7 linked regions of the Homo sapiens genome follow. The protein of the gene in region 5 purifies or fractionates together with the protein of the main gene of each other region. This does not show direct contact. Each region holds a gene or a part of one and is shown on either strand. Other genes may lie near its edges. The genes, in order: RAP1B, USP8, CUX1, PLOD1, TRIM40, THADA and DEDD2.

Region 1 (3,500 bases), on a different chromosome or scaffold from region 5:
CCATTATGATAAAATTTTAAGGTTTTTTCCCCCCATCTCTCATAACAGGATCATAGCTTGTTTTCTCAAAAGTTTATGTAAAAGTGTCTTATTTATGTCTACATTGACTAGGTTGTGTTCATTTTACTTAACATATGAGAGTTTTCTTTCTCTCTTTTCTTCCCTTTGGAGTTATCGTTTGCATCTCCATGAAAAGAGAAGGCAGTGGAGATAATTGACATCAAAGTTAATACTTATGTTTATGTTACAGATTAAATTGTTAAGGCTGTAAATTTTATTATACATTATTTAATATTTTTTGTGGCATATGAAAAGTAATTCTTAGATTTGACTCTTAGAATTCTTTTGATTTGAATTCATATAGCATATTTACTTATTTATTTTTACTCTCACAAATGTATTTTTAGGTTCCAATGATTCTTGTTGGTAATAAGTGTGACTTGGAAGATGAAAGAGTTGTAGGGAAGGAACAAGGTCAAAATCTAGCAAGACAATGGAACAACTGTGCATTCTTAGAATCTTCTGCAAAATCAAAAATAAATGTTAATGAGGTATGGTCAAATATACTTAAAATGGGTCTTCATTTGAAGTACAACATTGAAGATGAATGGAAAATGTCTTAACCCCAAGTTAATATGTACTCAGGGTAATATGTTGATGTTACAGGCAAAAAAAAAAAACCCTCATGTTAAATGTATCTATGTAGTAAATAAACAATACTATTTCAGTCTCTATTAAATACTTGTACATTGATATTTACCATGAAAAAGGAAGACTGGACAGAAAATACATGGATAGGGAAGACAGATTAAGACTTCAGGTATATGAAGGATGTTATATGAAAAATAGAGTAAAATTCCGAAAAGTATGCATGGTTCTTGAAAGGCTCCAAGTCATGTTGTAGAGCAAAAACTTACAGTTTTTAAAAGGATTTTTTCTTTGTGTGATGGTAAATGTTCTAATTGAACTAAGTTAAGATCTCTGCAGCTCCTTCAACTAAGTATTTTAAGGAGCACAATATTAACACTCCCCAAAAATTTGAGCTTGGCAGTTATAACACCTGATTTTATTCTCATTCCTTAGCTGAACAATTCTGGGCATTAATTTATATCCATGGAAATTTCTGTTTTTTCAATTTACTTTTTTCATTGGGGGGGATAGGTGTTCCTCCTGTAAATTAAAACAAATTATTGTATTTGCAGATCTTTTATGACCTAGTGCGGCAAATTAACAGAAAAACTCCAGTGCCTGGGAAGGCTCGCAAAAAGTCATCATGTCAGCTGCTTTAATATACTAAATGCATTGTAGCTCTGAGCCAGGTATGTTCACTTATCTTTCCTCTAACTTTTAATCACTCAACCTTATTAAGGGCACTCTGTCATGAAAGCAAGTATAGACTTCTTTTTGTTGGTTCTGAAAAATAAATGGTTTATTTTTATAAGATATCCATGAGTTAGTATGCTATCTTATTAATTATTTACTTATCATCATGAGTAAAGTATTTCACATAAGTATTCTTTTTTTGAGATGGAGTTTCACTCTGTCACCCAGGCTGGAGTGCAGTGGCGCAATATCAGCTCCCTGCAACCTCCGCCTCCCAGGTTCAAGCAATGCTTCTGCCTCAGCCTCCCGAGTAGCTGGGATTACAGGCACGTGCCACCACGCCCGGCTAGTTTTTTTGTATTTTTAGTAGAGATGGTGTTTCACCATTGTTGGCCAGGATGGTCTCAATCTCTTGACCTCGTGATCTGCCCACCTCGGCCTCCCAAAGTGCTGAGATTACAGGCGTGAGCCACCACTCCCAGCCAACCCCGTCCCTAATTTAAAACACACACACACACACACACACACACACACACACACACACACACACACGTGCGCGCGTGCGCGTGAGCCACCGCTCCCAGCCAACCGTCCCTAATTTAAAACACACACACACACACACACCCCTGACATGTTCATCATGTGCCAGTCACACACACACACACACCCCTGACATGTTCATCATGTGCCACTTTTTTTTTTTTCCTTCAACTTTTAAGTTCCAGGATACATGTGCAGGATGTGCAGGTTTGTTACATAGGTAAAGGTGTACCATGGGGTTTGCTGCACAGATCTTGCATCGGTACCTGGCACATAGTTAACACTCAACTATTAGCTGCTGCTGTTTGCCAATGATAATGGTTTCCTCTTCAGCTGTCATTAAACTGTTTATTGTTAAACTGTTAATTTATTCTTAAGAACCTTTGACATTCCTGACTCTTATTTCTTCCTATGTTAATTGACTCAGTGCTGCCATAGCACTTTGATTCTGCATCTTTTCAGAGTTTTTATTCCTGCCTTCCATCTAGGGCTTTCTGTTTAGTGGTATATCCTCTCATTCTAATATCCTATAATTCCTGACCACATGCCCATTCTTAGCAGCACACATGTGCTTGAGCTCACACACTTCCATCTGTCCTTTTTAATTTGCAACAGTCTGCCAGGATTTAGAAAACTTGATTGCAAACCTCATTCAGACTCAGAATGAGGACCTAAAGTTCTAGGCATTTGTGAAAATTATTTCAACAGCCACATATGTATTAACAACTCTTCTGGAGCTTGTAACAAGTCTGATCACCAGAAAAATATAATAGGGAACATTTTTTTAGCCGAGGCATGTATGCAGAAAACTATTCAAAGTACATATTTAACAATTCTAAGTTTACTTTTTAAAATCTTTAATTACATGTGATTTTAGTGTAATACCACCTTTTTCTGACATCAGTCTTAATAGAATGTTTAAATATGGAATTAGAAATTATATAACGTGATTGTAAATCTGTAAAACACCATCATGAAATAAATTCTATTTGTCTGCTCTGAACGAGCTTTTTAGCCACTTTCATTGAAAGAGTGAGGAAGAACTTGATTATCTGATACTAGAAACCTTGGTTAGATGTGCATTCTATACTTATGATCTAATTCTAGGAGTACATTACGATTGTGTAAACACAGGATCACCCAGTTTGTTAATATTGCTATCTGACTTTTCAATCCTAATTCTAATAAGGTTGACTTGACTAACAATTTTAATGTGATTTTTTTCCTTTTTAATCCTTGGAAGGTAATGCACAAAAATTTGCACAAAGGTACTTTCCCTTTCTGTTCCTAAGATTTTCATTTAACTGACTTTCAAGAGGGCAGCAGAATAGACTTCATCTTTTTGGAATGAAAAGGTCTGCCGTGAATTGTGGTATGTTGCCACTAATGTAATGCCTAGAACAAGAGCCTAGATTATATTCATTTCTAACACTTTTAAGACTGTTTTCTTAACTGTTTGCTTTTGGGTCTTTACTTTTTCTAGCCCATGTTTTTAATTAATTTTTTTCCTTTTGACAGGTCTGAAGAACTGTTGCCCAATTCAACAGTGCCAGCATTCCAACTTTGTTAAACCTACCAACATCTTAAATGGACTTTCCTGTGGTGGTACCCTTTAAGAGGCGGATGAAAGCTACTAT
Region 2 (3,500 bases), on a different chromosome or scaffold from region 5:
GGGTGATAGAGTGAGACCTTGTCAATCAGTCAACCAGTAGTCGAATATTACCTAGCATTGCAAATGATGATATAGCTCTATAGTGATGAAAGATGTTCATAGAAAAGCAACATCATAAAGGTTTTATTGAAAACTCTCTATAAGAGTAAACTCCAGAATGTAAAGTGGTATTGGGGTGGTGAGGTTATGGGTCATTTTTGTTTTATATTTAGTAATTTATTTTCTAATTTTTCTTCTAAGATCATTGATTATTTGTATGGTTTTTAAAACCTCACCTATATAACCATTTCATTTAATGTTGAATTTTGAATTCAGTTCTCATTTTGTCATTATTTAGAAGATAAATTTTGTCCTTAAGGGAACAACTTTAAAATTTAGATTTGTTGTGTTTTTAGCTGTTGAAAGATTGCTGCCCTATTTAAAATATGATTTCCTTATTTATAGTGGGAAAGTAAAACTGTCCTGCGCAATGAGCCTTTGGTTTTAGAGGGAGGCTATGAAAACTGGCTCCTTTGTTATCCCCAGTATACAACAAATGCTAAGGTCACTCCACCCCCACGACGCCAGAATGAAGAGGTGTCTATCTCATGTATGTATGTGAAAATTTTTGTTTAAAATTGCTTTGGTAAAATATGGTTTAAAATTGTTTTCCCGGTAACATTCTTGGTTGTGTGTGTATTTGTCCTATTAGAGAGCAGTTTGTTTTCAGGCATAAAAATATAAGCCTGGAAGTTCACATTTTCTTTAAGACTGTTGTAATTGTTTTTTCACTTAGTTTACATTTAATTACTGCATTAACACGCATGAGAAATGTAAGTACTGTGTATGGGGTTTGCTATTCTAAAAAACATTTTTATTTTTGGAATTTTAGTGGATTTTACTTATCCCTCATTGGAAGAATCAATTCCTTCTAAACCTGCTGCCCAGACGCCACCTGCATCTATAGAAGTAGATGAAAATATAGAATTGATAAGTGGTCAAAATGAGAGAATGGGACCACTGAATATATCAACTCCAGTTGAACCAGTTGCTGCTTCTAAATCTGATGTTTCACCCATAATTCAGCCAGTGCCTAGTATAAAGAATGTTCCACAGGTATGTTCTTGATTTTAACATTATTCTCGCTTTTGTTTTAATATTAAATATATAGTATAGCTGGGCACAGTGCCTCACGCCTGTAATCCCAGCACTTTGGGAGGCTGAGAGGGGCAGATCACCTGAGGTCAGGAGTTTGAGACCAACCTGGCCAACATGGTGAAACCCCCCTCTCTACTAATAATACAAAAATTAGCTGGGCATGGTGGTGGGTGCCTATAAATCCAGCTGTTTGGGAGGCTGAGGCATGAGAATTGTCTGAACCCAGGAAGCGGAGGTTGCAGTGAGTCGAGATTGCACCACTGCACCCCAGCCTGGGTGACAGCAAGACTCTGTCTCAAAAAAAAAAAAAAGAATTAAATACATAGTATAGAAACGAAGTTTAATATATAACCTTTAACATCTTAGAAAAAAGTATCGATGAGAACAGTCTGTATGTTTTGATAAATTTTTTGTTTAAAAATTTTTCATCATAATTCAGCATTACCGCCACGCCTATATTAGAGTAGATAATTAAGGGGTTTCCAAGCCAGTTGGCGATCCATTTGCTACAAACAATGCCAATGAAAGATTGCATTATCACAGTGAATTAGAATAGCCCTTTTGGGATTTTTTGTATTATAATTTGACCCATATTATTTTCATAAATAGCTTGGCTTACATATGATAGGTATGTGATGTCAGTATTTTGGTTTTAAAACAGTGCTTTAGTTTCATTTCCTTAGAATTTGACACGCAAATAACAGGCATGTTTAACAATAATCATGTAAAAGTTTTTAAATAACCAAGACATTACAAATAAAAAAATTTTAGTTTTTATATCCTTCATTTGGCTTTATTTAAAGAAAGGTTAACTAATGTTCCCCCTCCATGCATTTCCCAATAACATTTTTTAGCATTCATTTTTAATTTTTTCCCCAGATATATTTAAAACAGTATTTCACATTTAAAGTGGATGACGTTTGATTTGTGGAGCAGGTATTGAATAGAAAATCTGGTAATTTTTTGTTATAAACTGAAGTGGTTCATTTCTTCATTTTTTTAAGGTCTTTTAGTATTGCAGAATAAATTGCAGACTAAATAGATGTGATTAAACAACTTTTCTTAAAGGGTGAATTTAGGAAAGTCTAAAAAGAGCTTCTCTATGTTATTGCATTTCCTTTCAACTTAATCTATTTAAACGCTAATCCTTTTGTGTCCCAACATAACTTTATGAGATACGTACAATTTTCAGACATATTTTGAAGATCTTCTATATAAAAAACAGCATGAGGGCTGGGTGCCATGGCTCGTGCCTGTAATCCCAACACTTTAGGAGGCGGAGGCAGGTGGGTCACCTGAGGTCAGGAGTTCCAGACCAGCCTGGTCAACATGGTGAAACCCCATCTCTACTGAAAATACCAAAATTAGCCAGGCGTGGTGGTGCGTGCCTGCAGTCCCAGCTACTCAGGAGGCTGAGGCAGGAGAATCACATGAACCCAGGAAGCAGAGTTGTAGTGAGCCGAGATCAGGCCACTGCACTCCAGCCTGGGTGAGAGTGAGACTCTGTCTCAAAAAAAAATAAAAATAAAAATAAGACAGCATGAAAGTTTGTATATACAAGAGATGGGTTCTTCTGATGTTTGGAAGGAGAGATCTGTATAAAATCAGCCACAGCATAAGGCAGAATATCATAATTGCTCTACAAGGCACTGGAGCACAGAGCAAGGAGAATATTCTAGCTGAGAAGATCAAGGACGTCTTCATGGAGGAGACAGTATTTTATCTGGGCTTTAAGAGTAGGATTGGAGGATAGAAGAAACAAGTAGAAAATTCTATGACCAAAGGCATAGGGCATGCTCTGGGGCCAGTGAACAGTTTTGGCATATGTGGGCGCTAGTCTCTGTTGGAGAGAGGAAGTTATGATAGTAGATAAGATTAGAAGGATGGACAAGAGTCATCAAGAGAGACTTGGATCAAATTTGAATTTTGTCCTGTAGGCACAAGGAACCATTAAAGAATTTTAAACTTGAGAGTAACATGATCATAACTATACTTTTAAAATTAGGGAAAAATAGATCAAGCCACCAAAATGTAAATGGAAACAACATTTATTTTTGTTTCTGTTCCACCTCTTATTGTTAACCTCATCCCCATAGTGGTTCTTCCTACTTTATTCTCAAATACATGCAAAAAAAAAGACAAAGGATTTTTTTTAAGAGGCAGAAAGAGAAGTGAACAGGAAAAAAATTATTTTTTCTACACTAACCTCGTTTTCTTTTTCTTTTCTTTTTTTTTTGAAAACGGTCTCACTCTCTCACCCAGGCTGGAGTGCAGTGGCGTGATCACAGCTCACTGCAGCCTCGACTTCCTGGGTTCAAGCAATCCTCCCACCTCAGCCTCCTGAGTAGCTGGGATTATAGGCA
Region 3 (3,500 bases), on a different chromosome or scaffold from region 5:
AAAAAAAGAAAAGTTCCCTTTACAGTAACGTTCGGACAGACGTTTGTGGCTTGGCAGCCAGTCTTATGGCCAAATGAGGCACGGGCTCAGGTCGCTTGAGTTTGAGAACAGATGAGAGAATAATTAATTTTTTTAGGAGCTGTGGAAGTCTAAGAAGGAAAATGACTTCAACTAGAATCCATTCTTTCTAAAGGGAACTTGTTTTCCACGTGTGTTAAACGACTTGGGGGGAAATCAGCTGTCCGCAGCCCACTTCCTAATCAGATCGAGAGCTGGGTGGGAACGCGGACAGATGGAGGGAGGCAGGGCTCCAGGCCTGGTGGCCCCGGGAGCGGGTGAGTGGCCGGCCCCGCAGTGAGACCCCCGCTCTGCCCCTTCTAGGATGCGGCCAAGCCCCTGGAGGTGCTGTTGCTGGAGAAGAACCGCTCGCTGCAGTCCGAGAACGCCGCGCTGCGCATCTCCAACAGCGACCTGAGCGGTAGGTTGGCCGGGCTTCGCGCGTGTGCGGTGGTTGGTTCGCTTCCAGGGGTCGGTCGAGGACGAGGAAGGTGAATCGTGAGTCTGGACAGATGCATGGCCAGAGAAGCGCCGGTTGACGAGAACCTTTGACTAACGCGTGTTGGGTGCCCTCCTCCTCACCGCTCCTCCCTTCCCTTCCCCGCCCTGCTTAAAGCTGGATGTCGAGACGGGCCAGCCGCACAGGCTCTGCGGAGGTCAGTTAGGGGCAGTGCGGCTGGAATCCCCGGGAGGGACAGCTCGGAGGACGTCGGCCTTTCTGATCTGTGTCTGGTTGTGCTGCACAGAGGCCAGGGGCAGTGTGAACCCAGCCTCGCTCTGGTGGTGTTTTCAGGGACAGCCCCGGGCCTGCCGGGTCCAGTAGAGGTTTTTCTTCCTTGGTCAGGTTTCCCCTGGGGACGCGTCCCCCATCCTTAGCCTTTCTTGGCTCATCCCCCAAATGGTGGCGTCACTTGACTGTGCTTCTGGTTTGGGCAGCTGGTAAAACGCGTACAGGTGTCTCGGGCTCTAATGGTATTGCATTCTCAAAACGGGCGCGCGCCTCCACATCGAGGGGGCTCGGTACGGTGCATCGCCTCAGAGCAAGAGGTGCGAGCGAATCCATTGGTCCTAAAATGTCAGTGTTTGCTGCTCCTCCGGCCGGGGCCAGCGGGCCCAGTAAGAGGCCCGCGACCCGTCAACTCTTCCCTGTGTGTGTCACCAGCTCCTTGTCACGCTAGGAGTTTGAGTCTATGTCAAGGGGACTCTCCAGGCTGCAACGTACAAGAAAGGCGCAAACATGAATGCATGTTGCTTGTTTTGGGAAGCCTCGTTTGGCTGACTTACAAATTTAATCGGAAAACAAACCAACCCACCTCATTGGCCCTTGTAAAAAAAACCTGCACTTTTTTTTGTTTTCCCTTTTGCGGGGGCAAACTTTTGCATTTTGGTCTTGGTTTTTTTTTCCCCCTTTGGAATCCCCCATAATGCATTCTGTTTGCCCTTCCTTGTAGGGTCAGCCAGGAGGAAAGGGAAAGACCAGCCTGAAAGTCGGCGCCCGGGATCTTTGCCGGCCCCCCCTCCTTCTCAGTTGCCCCGCAACCCGGGGGAGCAGGCTTCCAATACTAATGGTACACACCAGTTCTCACCAGCGGGGTTAAGTCAAGACTTTTTCAGCTCATCCCTGGCAAGCCCCAGCCTACCCCTGGCTTCTACAGGAAAATTTGCACTAAACTCTCTTCTCCAGCGGCAGCTAATGCAGTCCTTCTACTCCAAGGCTATGCAGGAAGCCGGAAGCACAAGCATGATTTTTTCAACAGGTCCATACAGCACAAACTCCATATCTTCCCAAAGTCCATTACAACAAAGCCCAGATGTCAATGGCATGGCCCCATCCCCCAGCCAGTCAGAAAGTGCTGGGAGCGTCTCCGAGGGCGAGGAGATGGACACTGCAGAAATCGCCCGGCAGGTCAAAGAGCAGCTGATTAAGCACAATATCGGACAACGTATTTTCGGACATTATGTGTTGGGACTGTCTCAAGGGTCCGTGAGCGAGATTCTGGCCCGGCCCAAGCCATGGAATAAACTGACTGTTCGTGGCAAGGAGCCATTTCACAAGATGAAACAGTTCCTCTCCGATGAGCAGAACATCCTGGCCCTCCGTAGCATCCAAGGCAGACAAAGAGGTGAGAGACTGGCGTTGGGTGGCGCCAGCGTGCGAGCCCGTCACAGAGTTGCACATGTGTGTGTGCATGCGTGCGTGTGTCTGTGTGCGTGATGAAACATTTGTGCATCACATCAGGTAAAGTTCTCTTTGCTTCTGCCACGTCCAGAGCTCAAGGGTGGCCCGGCATGAGTTAAGGCTGTTAGATTTGGGAGATCTGGCCTTTGAAACGCACTCAGCACTCCATACTTAGGAAACCCTATAGTATTTCAATACTAGAGATCGTATCAGAGGGAATTGCATTACATGATGTATAGCGTCTCCGTATGCTTAGTGGCCGCGGGTCCAATTGGCCTTGGGTGCTGGTCTCACTTTTGGGAGGAGCCCTTAAGTCCCCTCCAGCCCCATAGCAGCAACGTTGACTGGGCTCGATCCTCATGCAAAGCTGGTTCTGTAGGGAGAACACATCACAGATGACACCTCCCCTCTTCCCACCCCGCAGAAGAGGGCGTGTCCCATGGCCACCTTCCCTACATTGTTCACGGTCCATTAGTGATTTGTTTAGCATTATGAGTAAAACAGGCCTGGCTTGAGTAAAATACACAAAAGTTTTATTTAAGCACCCTTTCTACCCCACCCTCCGTAAAAAGATAAAATGTCAGTCACATTCATAATTTCAAAAAATCCCAGCCGGGCACAGTAGCTCACGCCTATAATTCCAGCAGTTTGGGAGGCTGAGGTGGATGGATCGCTTGAGTCCAGGAGTTCAAGACCAGCCTGGGCAACATATATTTTGTAATCTTTTGATCTACAAAAAAATCAAAAGGTTAGCTGGGCGTGGTGGCGTGTACCTGTGGTCCCAGCTACTTGAGAGGCTAAGGCAGGAGGATGGCTTGAGCCCAGGAGGTGGAGGCTGCAGTGAGCCATGATTGAGCCACTGCACTCCAGTCTGGGCAACAGAGTGAGAACCTGCCTCAAATAAAAAAACAAAAAAGAAAGTTCCTTTTCTGTTTAAGACCAGGGGATCAATGTGCCACATCAACAGAGCTATTGAGAGGTCATTTCATCAGACATGTTTGAAACACCCTGAAATTTAGACTCAAACAGAGCAGGGAGATGTTTTGAACAGCATCAATTTGCACCAAGAAAATGCAGTGTTTTATGAGGATGTTAACCGAAATTGAATGTCTTTGGATGATTAATGCGAGCTTTGTTCTGGGGGCTGGCGGGTGATCCTCCTTCAAGGCAGTCCTCCCTCCCATGGACCTCCCTGGCCTCAATGCCGTAGGTCGCTACTTAGATTTCCCCCATCTCCTTTTGCAGCAGAGCCACGGCCTCTGCG
Region 4 (3,321 bases), on a different chromosome or scaffold from region 5:
TTGCAGGCACTCGAGCATAGAGCCCCATGTAGACCTGGCCCCTGTAAGCTGACCTGCAGCAGGCCAGACCAGGCCCCATGTGTGCACCCTCCTCTCCTGGCCTTTGTGTCCTCCTTAACTAACACGGGCTCTCTTGTCCCCCTGCCTTGGTACAGGCCCAGTTTGACCTGGCCTTTGTCGTCCGCTACAAGCCTGATGAGCAGCCCTCACTGATGCCACACCATGATGCCTCCACCTTCACCATCAACATCGCCCTGAACCGAGTCGGGGTGGATTACGAGGTGAGCAGGAGCCAGCCGGGGTCAAGGGGCCGGCAATGGGGATGAGGAGGGCTAGCTGAGGAGAGGCTTCAGGGTGGTTGAGGCAGAGGGGCCCCAGGTAACCAGTGCCAGAGAACCAGAAAAAAAAGGATGTGGGTCTGTGGGAGGGCTTCCTGGAAGGGTTCACAGTCTAGCAGGAGGAGGGGCCAGGCTCTTAAGCTACTATTTTAAGAGATTTTTGGGCTCGGCATGGTGGCTGATGCCTGCAATCCCAGCAGTTTGGGAGGCCAAGGCAGGCAGATCACTTGGGGCCAGGAGTTTGAGACCAGCCTGGCCAACATGGCGAAACCCCATTTCCACTAAAAATAGAAAAATTAGCTGGGCGTGGTAGCACACACCTGTAATCTTAGCTACCCAGAAGGCTGAGGCATGAGAATCTCTTGAACCCAAGAGGTGGAGGTTGCAGTGAGCTGAGATCATGCCACTGCACTCCAGCCTGGGCAACAGAGCGAGACTCTGTCTCCAAAAAAAACAAAAAGAGGTTTTTTGAACTTAGCCCTGGGCTGGGTGCTGTGGAGAACACTCATAAAAACAGCTATAATCCTTTTTTTTTTCTTTTTCGAGACAGGGTCTTGCTCTGTCACCCAGGCTGGAGTGTAGTGGCATGATCACAGTTCACTGCAGCCTCAACCTCCTGGGCCCAAGCAATCCTCCCACCTCAGCCCCCCCAAGTAGTTGGGACCACAGGCGTGTGCCACCATGGCCAGCTAATTTTTTTTCTTGCTTTTAGAGATGGGGTTTCACTATGTTGCCCAGGCTGGAGCTATAATTTTTTGAGAGCTTACAACAAACATATCAGGCATCCCTAATCCAAGGATTCTCAACCAGGAGCAACTGTGGCCTGCAAGGGACATTGGCAGTACCTGGAGACATAATTGGTTTTTACAACTATGAGGGGCTACTGGCATCTAGTGGGTAGAAGTCAGAGATGCCCGGGACAGCCTTCCACAGCAAAGTGTCTATAGTGGTGAGGTTGGGAAGCTTGATCCTCAGCTCTCAATTGTAACATCTCATTTAATTCTCACTATCCTGTTCTGTTTAACCCTCATTTTACAGAAGGGGAAACTGAAGCTCAGGTTGGTCACAGTTAGTAAAGAGTGGAGGTGATGTCTGCCCAGGGCTGCCTGACTCCAAGGACAGAGCTCTTGATCACTTACTCTTTGGGTTTTTTTTTTTTTGAGACAGTCTCATTCTGTTGCCCAGGCTGGAGTACAGTGGCGCGATCTCGGCTCACTGCCTCCTGGGTTCAAGTGATTCTGTCTCAGCTTCCCGAATAGCTGGGATTACAGGCGTGCGCTGCTACACCCAGCTGGTTTTTGTATTTTTAGTAGAGATGGGGTCTCACCATGTTGGCCATGCTGGTCTTGAACTCCTGACCTCAGGTGGTCCACCCGCCTTGGCCTGCCAAAGTGCTGGGATTACAGGCGTGAGCCACCACTCCTGGCCACTACTCTTCATTTAGTGTCTTCCTTAGCAGCGCTTGTGGCTGTCACTCCAGAAGGCATCCCCAGGCAGGCAGTGCTGAGGGCCACTTGGCCATGACAGGAGATCATGACGGGAGAACAGACGGGCAGGGGGGCGGTGGGGAAAGGCCACTGATGCTTTCTGTCTCCCAGGGCGGGGGCTGTCGGTTCCTGCGCTACAACTGTTCCATCCGAGCCCCAAGGAAGGGCTGGACCCTCATGCACCCTGGACGACTCACGCATTACCATGAGGGGCTCCCCACCACCAGGGGCACCCGCTACATCGCAGTCTCCTTCGTCGATCCCTAATTGGCCAGGCCTGACCCTCTTGGACCTTTCTTCTTTGCCGACAACCACTGCCCAGCAGCCTCTGGGACCTCGGGGTCCCAGGGAACCCAGTCCAGCCTCCTGGCTGTTGACTTCCCATTGCTCTTGGAGCCACCAATCAAAGAGATTCAAAGAGATTCCTGCAGGCCAGAGGCGGAACACACCTTTATGGCTGGGGCTCTCCGTGGTGTTCTGGACCCAGCCCCTGGAGACACCATTCACTTTTACTGCTTTGTAGTGACTCGTGCTCTCCAACCTGTCTTCCTGAAAAACCAAGGCCCCCTTCCCCCACCTCTTCCATGGGGTGAGACTTGAGCAGAACAGGGGCTTCCCCAAGTTGCCCAGAAAGACTGTCTGGGTGAGAAGCCATGGCCAGAGCTTCTCCCAGGCACAGGTGTTGCACCAGGGACTTCTGCTTCAAGTTTTGGGGTAAAGACACCTGGATCAGACTCCAAGGGCTGCCCTGAGTCTGGGACTTCTGCCTCCATGGCTGGTCATGAGAGCAAACCGTAGTCCCCTGGAGACAGCGACTCCAGAGAACCTCTTGGGAGACAGAAGAGGCATCTGTGCACAGCTCGATCTTCTACTTGCCTGTGGGGAGGGGAGTGACAGGTCCACACACCACACTGGGTCACCCTGTCCTGGATGCCTCTGAAGAGAGGGACAGACCGTCAGAAACTGGAGAGTTTCTATTAAAGGTCATTTAAACCACTGAAGGGAAGATGCTCAGGGCGAGTGGGTGTGTGTGTGTCTTGGTGTGAGTGTCTGCAGGGAGAGAGGTTTTAAGAGCCCTCTTTTTTTTTTTTTTTCTTTTTTTGAGACAGAGTCTCACTCTGTCTTCCAGGCTGGAGTGCAATGACGCTATCCCCGCTTTCTGCAACCCCCGCCTCCTGGGTTCAAGTAATTCTCCTGCCTCAGCCTTCCGAGCAGCTGGGGCTACAGGCACCCATCACCACGCCTGGCTAATTTTTGTTTTTTTATTAAAGAAAGGGTTTCACCAGGTTGGTCTGGCTGGTCTTGAACTCCTGACCTCAGATGATCCACCCACCTCGGCCTCCCAAAGTGCTGGGATTACAGGCATGAGCCACCGTGCCCGGCCAAGAGCCCTCTTTTTAGAGCCTTTAAGAAAGGTCATGCTAGCCTCTCGACCCCTGAGTAGCTGGGATTATAGGTATCCATGCCTGACACATTTTTGTATTTTTTGTAGAAAC
Region 5 (3,500 bases):
ATAATGACAAGAAAGCTAAAACAAATAAATAACGATGACACTTGTTCATTAAGTAAAAACTTAGTAAGTTCCTGCTGTGTGTGAGAAACTGCAGCATGTGCTAGGAATCAATGAAGACAGATGCCATTCCTTCTGCCAGGAGTTTGCAGTGTAGTAAGGGAGACACAAATAAGTAATCAAAGAACTGTAACTTTTTTTTCTTTTTTTTTTTTTTTTTTTTTTGAGATGGAGTCTCATTCTGTCACCCAAGCTGGAGAGCAGTGGCATGATCTCGGCTCACTGCAACCTCCGTCTCCCAGGTTCAAGCAATTCTTTGCCTCAGCCTCCCGAGTAGCTGGGATTACAGGCACCCACCACCAGGCCTAGCTAATTTTTGTATTTTTAGTAGAAACAGGGTTTCACCATCTTGGCCAGGCTGGTCTTGAACTCCTGACCTCATGATCCATCTGCGCTGGCCTCCCAAAAGAACTGTAACTTTTTATTAGTTAGGAAGAAAATAAACAAGGGTCTGGGATGAACAGTAATGGGTGGCCCATGTCCATTTGGTCAGTGAGGGCCTCATAGAGGAAGTGACCTTGAAGCTGAGGGCTGGCAGAAGAGAAATCAACCTGCAAAGACAGGGGGTAGGGAGTGCATACAGATGCCCACACCTGAGAAGTCTTGTTATATTTGAAGAATTTATCATTAGAGTTTGAATCGACAGGACTTACTGAGAGATTAGAAGTGGGTTCTTTGTAAGAAAAAAACAACCCCATCAAAAAGTGGGCAAAGGATATGAACAGACGCTTCTCAAAAGAAGACATTTATGCAACCAACAGACATATGAAAAAATGCTCATCATCACTGGTCTTTAGAGAAATGCAAATCAAAACCACAATGAGATACCATCTCTGCCAGTTAGAATGGCAATCATTAAAAAGTCAGTAAACAACAGATTCTGGAGACGAAGTGGAGAAATAGGAACGCTTTTACACTGTTGGTGGGAGTGTAAATTAGTTCAACCATTGTGGAAGACAGTGTGGTGATTCCTCAAGGATCTAAAACCAGAAATACCATTTGACCCAGCAATCCCATTACTGGGTATATACCCAAAGGATTATAAATCATTCTACTATAAAGACACATGCACACGTATGTTTATTGTGGCATGGTTCACAATAGCAAAGACTTGGAACCAACCCAAATGCCCATCAACGATAGACTGGATAAAGAAAATATGGCACATATACACCATGGAATACTATGCAGCCATAAAAACAGATGAGTTCACGTCCTTTACAGGGACGTGGATGAAGATGGAAACCATCATTCTCAGCAAACTAACACAAGATCAGAAAACCAAACACCACATGTTCTCACTCGTAAGTGAGAGTTGAACAATGAGAACACGTGGACACAGGGAGGGGAATATCACACACCAGGGCCTGTGAGGGGATGGGGGGTAGGGGAGGGATAGCATTAGGAGAAATACCTAACGTGGATGACGGTTTGATGGGTGCAGCAAACCACCATGGCACGTGTATACCTATGTAACAAACCTGCATGTTCTGTCCATGTGCCCCAGAACTTAAAGTATATATATTTTAAAAAGTGGGTTGAAGGAAGGAGGAAGGTCAAAGATGACTTCATGAGTTTCTGGTTTGAGAAACTGAATAGATGATGTGAAAGATAATAACTTGGTAGAACAGGTTTGAATGCAACACCAAGAGTTTCATTTAAGACAAGTTGAGTCCAAGTTGAGACACATCAAAATAGGATCTTACATACGCAGCTGGATCACAAATTTAGATCTCCAGAGTCTTATTCCTAGAACCTAGAACAAAGATCCATCCAGGCAAAGACAATATTTAAATCCAAGAAAAGCGGGCACGGTGGCTCACACCTGTAGTCCCAGCACTTTGGGAGGCCAAAGTGGGAGGATCGCTTGAGCCCAGGAGTTCAAGACCAGCTTAGGCAACACAGTGAGATACTATCTCTAGAACAACAACAGCAACAACAAAGTGAAATTAACAGGATTTAAAAAAAAGAACGTGACAATTTGGGGCTGGGTGCAGTGGCTCACGCCTGTGGTCCCAGCTACTTGGAAGGTTGAGGTGGGAGGATTGCTTGAGCCCAAGAGAGTGAGGCTGGAGTGAGCTGTGATTGTGCCACTGCACTGCAGCCAGGAAGACAGAGCAAGACCCTGTCTCAAACAAAGAAACAAACAACCAAGAAACCAAGGAAACTGATGTAATTGCCTCAAAAGAGGCTAGACAGAAAAAGAAGTTTTGGGGTAAGGTTCTGGGAAAGGCCGTCATTTAGATGTAGGCAGAGGAGGACCCAGCAAAGGAGACAGGATGAGTTGCCAGAAAGGCAGGAGAAAAACAAGGGGAATGGTGCCCCAGCTGCTAAGAGAGAAGGGTATTTTAAGAGATTATAATAGATTGCATTGAACAATGCTAACACTTCAGTAAGATGGTGGCAGAGGCATGAGAGCTGAGTTGGGAGGAGGCACACTTCTTCCATAGTAATAACAGGGAACAAGAGAAGGTGTCTGCAAGCCTACATAGTTTTGCAGTTTTGGAAATCCAGGTTTTGTTCTGGTTTTTATTTTCTCATAATATTTGAGGAAGGAACATCAGCAGTATGGGTGGGATCAGGATGGATGTGAAAGGTTTGAAAAGAAACAAGATGGTGTGATGCAGTGTGGGAGAGCGCTTACAAGAGAAACTATGTAGGGTTGGCAGACAGTATGTAGCACCAATTTGAGGTCTGAAATGTTTAACATGTTTCAGGAGGCTGCCTGAGGACAGACAGCAAACAAGAAGGTGATGGTACATTTTACCATGGATAAGGAGTTGTCTGAAAAGTAACACAGAGAGGGAGGGTAAGGGAGTTGAGTATATTTCTGAAGAAGTGATTATAATGGTGGACCTTATGTGTACTCATGGATATTGACAGCGTAATTTTGAAATTAAGGAGGGTTTTTTTTTACTGATTTTTTCACCATATCTCTATTTATTTGAATTAAACTTTGTAGTTAAGTATTGTAAATTTTGTTCTTTTAAAAGAATCATATAATCCCTGACTGTACTCTAAAAAGACCGAAAAATTTATAAAATCTACAAATTCTTATTTGTATACCTGTTTCCTCACTGACCAGTCAATGTCAGTGTCAATCACTTTAATGTATTTTGCTGGTTTAGTAAGTGTGTGACAGTGATGTACGTTGTTTTACTTTGCTTGATTATGAATGCTAGTAGTGGTGAGGCTTTTATCCATGAAGACTCGCTGTCTGCATTTTCCCCTAGAATCAGGGCATAAATTCTACATGATTGCATCAAAATAGTTTATCTTTTGGATAATGAGCTCCATTAGTTGTGTTTGTTTAACCTACATTTTTTTATTCTGTTATTTCTTCTTAATTATATTTTTGGGCAACTTTTTAGAAATTTGCATTTAAATTGGCTCTATTCTTTTTTATAATATAATCTCCATGTCTTAAATACACAGAAATTTGT
Region 6 (3,500 bases), on a different chromosome or scaffold from region 5:
TCCAGATGGCATGGTACTATTAGTGTGTAGTTGTGTAGTCTCTGAGTTGGGTTGTTTAGCCTGTTATGAACCCGTTGATTTGTTAAGTATCGATAAAAGCAAACTCAAGAGAATAGCATTAAAAAAATATTTTTTTTCATTTTTGCAGAAATCAGGACACGGTAGTACCTCCTCTTAGTCTAATGAGTCACTGAGGTTAGTTTGAAGTATTTTATCTTTGGAAAAACTATCCCAGTTTTTTTGTGTGTATGTTCACTAAAAGGAAAGTTTGCTGTATTTTAAAATACAAAGACTGAGTCATAGTAGGTAAAATAACTTCAGTCAGTAATAAGCTTCAGCTTAAAACATTTTTCTTCTTCAAATCAGAAATTCTTAGACAGTGATTCTCATTCTGGAGCAGTTTTGCTCCCCAGGGGACACTTCACAGTGTTTGGAGACATATTTTGGTTGTCAGAACTTGGGAGGGAGGAGGGTGCCACTGGCATCTAGTGGGTAGAGATGGGGATGCATGAAACATAATGCATAGGATGATACTGTTCAACAAAGAATGAACCCAGCCAAAAATCATAGTGCTGAGGTTGAGAAACCTTACATTAATGCCTTAAAGTCTTCTTTCTTGCAGTGACTACTATTAATTCTATTTAAAATGGGTGTAAAGAAGAAGAAAGAAATGCAAGTTGCTGCGCTGACCATTTGCCATCAGGACCTTGAAACTTTGAAATGTAGGTGACTTCTGGTTTCCCTTATTATATTTTTTTCTAGTTTGCAAGCAGAGTATTTTAATGACTGGGACCCCTAGCATATAATATTCAAATTCTTTATATTTTTCCTTATGTTTTGGATGTAAAACAATTTTCTTAAAATTCTGTCTTCAGACTATGTTCCACCTATTGCTATGGTTTATAATTAAAAAATTTTGTAGAATGCACAACAAAGGCAAAGTTAACTCACTGTTAAATCATTGAAAATTTTTTTTTGTATATGTTATATAGCTTTTGCTGATGTGGAAGGGAAAAATCTAGCTTCTTTGCTGTTACATTGTGTGCAACTCACGGATGGAGTGTCACAAATCCATTATATTAAACAGGTAAGTCTGAATTGATATTCATGGATGCATCTTTAAGAGTATCATGCTATTAAGGATTTAAAAAAAATCACTGACAGTTTTTGGTCCCTAATTATTGCATATCAGTTTATCATTAGCAAATAAGTATTTTTTTTTTTCTGTTTATTGTATAATATCCTTGTATTCAAAGCAGCAATAGAAGCCATATTCAGACTTCTATCATAATTGAACTGTAAACAGATAAGGTAGAAGATAATGTGCATACCTCTTTTGTGGAGATAAATTTTAAAATATATGAATCTTCAAAACTTTTTAGCAGACACATTTAAAAGTTAATTTAAAATATAAAGATTATACTTATTAGTATTTCAGTATTAGGATTTACCATTTGAGCACACATAGTTTTTTTTTTTGGAAAGCAAGTAAATGTATTACTGGTTTTTTAATAGTGCTACAGCTGTTCTTTACTGTAAGCCATTAACAGGTCTGTGATTCTCTGTGGAGGTGGGTCTGGAGGGTAAAGAGGGAGGTGGGGACATGAGTTTAAAAAGTTAATAAATAGTGAAATAGGTGTTTAAATCAGTATCCTTGACAGTGGAGTATGGAAAACATTTCACGTAATTGACACTTTGTTTTATTTATTTTTTTGAGATAGGGTCTCACTCTCTTACCCAGGCTGGAGTGCACTGGTGTGATCTTGGCTCAACCACAGCCTCAACCTCCTGGGCTCAAGCAATCCTCCTGCCTCAGCCCCCTGAGTAGCTGGGACTACAGGCATGTGCCACCATGCCTGGCTAATTTTTGTATTTTTTTGTAGAGACAGGGTTTCACCATGTTGCCCGAGCTTGTCTCGAACTCTCCTGGGCTCAAGCGATCTGCCCACCTCAGCCTCCCAAAGTGTTGGGATTACAGGGGTGAGCCACTGTACCCAGCAATTGAGACTTCAAAGAGTATCTGTAACCATGTTACTTTGCTATATTTGATATTATAAAAATTACTTCAATGTTTTGTATTATAGATTGTGCCTCTGCTGGAGAAAGCAGATAAAAATGGCATGTGTGATCCCACTATTCAAAGTTGTTTGGATATCTTAGCAGGCATTTATCTTTCTTTGAGTCTAAAGAATCCCTTGAAGAAAGTATTGGCAAGGTAAGAAAAAAAGGAAGGGAAGTTGGGTGTTATAAATGTTGAATTTGACCAAAAGTAACTGAAGTTCCTTCCTTGGTTTGATAAAACTGAACTGATACAGATCACAAAAAGTTCATTCATATGGTTTGTTCTCTGTTTCATTGATTAGTTACAACTATTTTTTTTTTTTTTTTTTTTTTGAGACGGAGTCTAGCTCTGTCGCCCAGGCTGGAGTGCAGTGGTGCGATCTTGGCTCACTGTCAGCTCTGCCTCCCGGGTTCACGCCATTCTCCTGCCTCAGCCACCACACCCGGCTAATTTTTTGTGTTTTTAGTAGAGATGTGGTTTCACCATGATAGCCAGGATGGTCTTGATCTCCTGACCTTGTGATCCGCCTTCTCAGCCTCCCAAAGTGATGGGATTACAGGTGTGAGCCACTGCGCCCAGCCTAGTTACAACTTTTTAAAAGTATAAAAAGCCTTCTTAGGTCACATGCTTAATAAACAGGCTGTGGGCTGTAGTTTGCTTACTCCTGCCTCAATCCATTTACATTTATTGGTTATGTTTAAATGTCATCTTGCTGTTTTTTCCTCTTTTTGTCCTATCTGTTCTTGGTTTAAATATATATTTACACAGATAACACAGGAATATAGGCTTGGTATAAAAATTTCAAATGATATAGAACTATACAAAATAAAAACTAAGGCTTCCATTTCATTGTTTAGGGCTTATCTTACTTTTCTTAGTAAAGATTGTCACTTACCGTTTTGGTATTTATCTTTCTAGACCTTCTCTTTGAGGTCAGCATATGTGTGTTACATTCTACTTTTTTTATATATATCTGTAAACGAGATTATACTCTACAGAATGCTCTGTAGCTTGTTTTTTCACTAAAGAATGTCTTAGAGATATTTCCATGTCATAAAATCCTAATTGTAGTAAAAGACATATAACATAAAAACTCAGTCTTAACCTTTTTTTTTTATGAATTCTTTTTTTTTAAATTTTAATTTTCATTTCGATAGGTTTTTGGGCAACAGGTGGTACTTGGTTACATGAATAAGTGGTGGTTTCTGAGATTTTGGTGCACACATCACCTGAGCAGTGTATACTGTACCCAACAATTTGTAGTCTTTTATTTCTCACCCCCTTCCCACCCTTTCCCCTGAGTCTCCAAAGGCCATTGTATCATTCTTATGCCTTTGCATCCTCATAGATAAGCTTCCACTTATGAGTGAGAACATATGATGTTTGAGTCTTAACCATTTTTAAGTGTACATAGTTCGCTATTGTTAAGTGTATTCAT
Region 7 (2,580 bases), on a different chromosome or scaffold from region 5:
CTGGGAGGCGGAGCTTGCAGTGAGCTGAGATCATGCCACTGCACTCCAGCCTGGGCAACAGAGCAAGACTCCGTCTCAAAAAAAAAAAAAAAAAAAAATTCCTGGGAGCCCCCAAGGACATACAGGAGCAAAGCATGTGTGAACATGGTTGGAAGGGTTTCTGACTCCGAGGCAGTATTCTATTTCTTCCTTTGACAGAGGACAAGACTGACACCCAGAGGGGAGGACAAGCGTGTGGTTATCAGCTGGCATATGGTCCAGCATCCTGCCCACACTCCAGTCCCTAACGCTGGGCCAGGAACACTCCTCCTCCCAGCCCACTGAGGTCCAAAAGCTGGGCATGGTGACGGGCACCTGTAGTCCCAGCTACTTGGGAGGCTGAGGCAGGAGGATCGCTTGAGCCCAGGAATTTGAGGCTGGCCTGGGCAACATATCAAGACCCTCAACTCTAAAAAAAAAATTTAAATTAAATAATAAATAAAGAGTCCTAGAGAGGCCGATGCCCACCTATGCCCTTTCCAGGGCAGTTTAATTGGTATCATTTGTAAAAGGTCTTTTCCATCACCCCCAAAGCCTTTGCATTCCCTTTCCAAGAAGGTGGCTGTTTACTGGTTTTGGCCCCATGTGCAACAGTAGGCCTTGGTATGATGCTGCCATAACACTCCCATGTGACACTCCAGGTGACATCCAAGTGCAAGTCTATGTTCAGCTCTGGACAGCAGGGGGGAAGGTGAGGAGAGTCAGGTCTGTAAATTGAAGCTGGGCAGGGCCCTGGCTGGCTGGAGATGTGTGGGCAAGGTGAGCAGGCCCCATGTGCACCCCAGCTCCAGTGCCCACTGATGTGGCTGAAGCCCAGGTTGGTTGTGGTCAAATTAGAGGTCCTGAGAGAGAAGCCCTTAGGCCAAAGAAGTGTGTGCTGGGAAGCAGGCCAGGGCAGAGGCCCAGGGAAGATCTCAGCAGGGGCAGTGTGAGCATGAGCGAGTGTGTGCACCTGTGACAGTGCAGACAGCCCAAGATCAGAGATACAATGTGCAGGGGGGCCTTTGGTGAGTGTGTAGCTGTGCCCCTCCCTTCTGAGATACAGGCCCAGCCCCCGCCTCCGGAGGCTAAGGGGGCACACCTGGGGGTAGGAGGAGTCTGGGAAGGAAACTCAGCTGGAAATGGTTTAGGCCTCAGAGCCCACATCCTGTGGGAGGGGCTGTCAAGGGGCCTGCTGTCCCGGTCCTGTCGCAGTCCTCAAAGATGCTAGAGTGACAGTCCTCTAGGGGTAGAGATGGTCGTCCTCCCAGGAGAAGGTGGCCCGGAGACTTGGAGGTGGGATCAATCCTGCCAGTCCTGGATCAGGAGGCCTCTGTCGGGCGCCGCCCCCCTTCCTCCTCCATCAGCAACAGGCGGCGCCGGCCAGCCTCATAGTCAGCCTCATCCACACTGACCAGCAGGCGAACAGCCTCCCGGCCCACAGCCTCTCGCAGGGCCTCAGTCAGGAACACGCCCCGCAGGGCCTGCAGCAGGGCGCCACTCAGGTAGTCGCCCCAGAAGGCGTCCAGATAGGAGAGCTCTGAGAACTTGATGTCACAAACCACAGAGCCCAGGTCCCTTGAGCGCAGCACTGCGGTGGCCTGCCCAAACACGTCCAGCTGCCGCGCCAGCGCCTGGGGCCGCCGGGATGCCACGCCCTGCTCCAAGGCTGGCCCATGCTCGCAGTACTCTGCTCGAACCCGGAGCCGGATGTCTGCAGGGGAAGGAGGGATTTGTCAGGGAGGGGGCCAACACTAGACACACTTATGGGGAACGCCACCCTTCCTCCCTCCAGCCTTCTCCCTCCACCCCCTTCCGGTAGCCACACCCTAGTCCTGACACAGCCTCCCCGGCTCTGTGGGGTTCCCTGACCAAGTACGTCCTCCTCTTCTCCAGCCCACCACCTCCTCACTGCTCCAACAAGCCTCCCCACCGCCAGGGGTGCTCTTTCCCTGGATCTGCACAACACTTGCTCCCTCTCTTCCTGCAGGTCTTTGCTCAAAAGCCACCTTGCCAACAAGGCCCACCTAGGCCAACCTATTTACAGCTGTAACCACCCACCCAGCCCTCTCTGCAGCATGCCAGGTCCCACACCCTGCTCCATTTTTGTCCAAGGCACTTATCACCTTCCAACCTCCTCTGTCAGTTACTATCTGCTCATTATCTGTCTCTACACTCAGCATGGAGAGACAGATGACAGCAAGGAAGGGGTTTTTGTCTGTTTTGTTCACTTGTGTAACTGTGGCACATAGTAGGTGTTCAATATGTATTTGTGAAGAACTAATGCATGAACTAATGGACTTGCCTTAAGGCAACCAGCCTCACACCCTGCCCCCAAACAATGAGATTCACATGGTGCCAACCACATCCCCATCCCTCCCATCCACCTGAGCCAGCACTGCGGATGCGCAGGGTCCTGACCAGGCCCGGGAGGCTTGCGGCTGGACCTGTGCTGGCTCTACTGGGAGTCAGGTACTCTCTTGCCACAGAGCTGCTAAGATGATGGGTTGGAAGCCCAGAGCTGCTGGGAGCCACTGTGCCAAGAGGAGAGAAGGAAGCCTA

What was found.
Region 1: the proteins of TRIM40 (region 5) and RAP1B purify together in Homo sapiens (affinity purification with mass spectrometry, with the first as the bait; one large-scale study listed by BioGRID). This does not show direct contact.
Region 2: the proteins of TRIM40 (region 5) and USP8 purify together in Homo sapiens (affinity purification with mass spectrometry, with the first as the bait; one large-scale study listed by BioGRID). This does not show direct contact.
Region 3: the proteins of TRIM40 (region 5) and CUX1 purify together in Homo sapiens (affinity purification with mass spectrometry, with the first as the bait; one large-scale study listed by BioGRID). This does not show direct contact.
Region 4: the proteins of TRIM40 (region 5) and PLOD1 purify together in Homo sapiens (affinity purification with mass spectrometry, with the first as the bait; one large-scale study listed by BioGRID). This does not show direct contact.
Region 6: the proteins of TRIM40 (region 5) and THADA purify together in Homo sapiens (affinity purification with mass spectrometry, with the first as the bait; one large-scale study listed by BioGRID). This does not show direct contact.
Region 7: the proteins of TRIM40 (region 5) and DEDD2 purify together in Homo sapiens (affinity purification with mass spectrometry, with the first as the bait; one large-scale study listed by BioGRID). This does not show direct contact.

What each region holds. Positions count from the first base shown.
Region 1 is NC_000012.12:68,655,899-68,659,398, forward strand, and holds part of RAP1B (ras-related protein Rap-1b isoform 1 precursor), read left to right. Parts: intron 1-407; coding exon 408-551; intron 552-1,202; coding exon 1,203-1,289; 3' UTR 1,290-1,319; intron 1,320-3,381; 3' UTR 3,382-3,500. UniProt on the Homo sapiens protein: GTP-binding protein that possesses intrinsic GTPase activity. Contributes to the polarizing activity of KRIT1 and CDH5 in the establishment and maintenance of correct endothelial cell polarity and vascular lumen.
Region 2 is NC_000015.10:50,476,405-50,479,904, forward strand, and holds part of USP8 (ubiquitin carboxyl-terminal hydrolase 8), read left to right. Parts: intron 1-444; coding exon 445-589; intron 590-871; coding exon 872-1,095; intron 1,096-3,500. UniProt on the Homo sapiens protein: Hydrolase that can remove conjugated ubiquitin from proteins and therefore plays an important regulatory role at the level of protein turnover by preventing degradation. Converts both 'Lys-48' an 'Lys-63'-linked ubiquitin chains.
Region 3 is NC_000007.14:102,195,126-102,198,625, forward strand, and holds part of CUX1 (Homeobox protein cut-like 1), read left to right. Parts: intron 1-381; coding exon 382-478; intron 479-1,508; coding exon 1,509-2,180; intron 2,181-3,500. UniProt on the Homo sapiens protein: May be involved in intra-Golgi retrograde transport.
Region 4 is NC_000001.11:11,972,717-11,976,037, forward strand, and holds the end of PLOD1 (procollagen-lysine,2-oxoglutarate 5-dioxygenase 1 isoform 2 precursor), read left to right. Parts: intron 1-155; coding exon 156-281; intron 282-1,936; coding exon 1,937-2,092; 3' UTR 2,093-2,821; downstream 2,822-3,321. UniProt on the Homo sapiens protein: Part of a complex composed of PLOD1, P3H3 and P3H4 that catalyzes hydroxylation of lysine residues in collagen alpha chains and is required for normal assembly and cross-linkling of collagen fibrils.
Region 5 is NC_000006.12:30,139,140-30,142,639, forward strand, and holds part of TRIM40 (E3 ubiquitin ligase TRIM40), read left to right. Parts: intron 1-3,500. UniProt on the Homo sapiens protein: E3 ubiquitin-protein ligase that plays a role in the limitation of the innate immune response. Mediates inhibition of the RLR signaling pathway by ubiquitinating RIGI and IFIH1 receptors, leading to their proteasomal degradation.
Region 6 is NC_000002.12:43,589,539-43,593,038, reverse strand, and holds part of THADA (tRNA (32-2'-O)-methyltransferase regulator THADA), read left to right. Parts: intron 1-148; exon of another isoform or gene 149-195; intron 196-622; 5' UTR 623-646; coding exon 647-722; intron 723-992; coding exon 993-1,087; intron 1,088-2,084; coding exon 2,085-2,215; intron 2,216-3,500. UniProt on the Homo sapiens protein: Together with methyltransferase FTSJ1, methylates the 2'-O-ribose of nucleotides at position 32 of the anticodon loop of substrate tRNAs.
Region 7 is NC_000019.10:42,198,098-42,200,677, forward strand, and holds the end of DEDD2 (DNA-binding death effector domain-containing protein 2), read right to left. Parts: intron 1,733-2,580; coding exon 1,341-1,732; 3' UTR 501-1,340; downstream 1-500. UniProt on the Homo sapiens protein: May play a critical role in death receptor-induced apoptosis and may target CASP8 and CASP10 to the nucleus. May regulate degradation of intermediate filaments during apoptosis.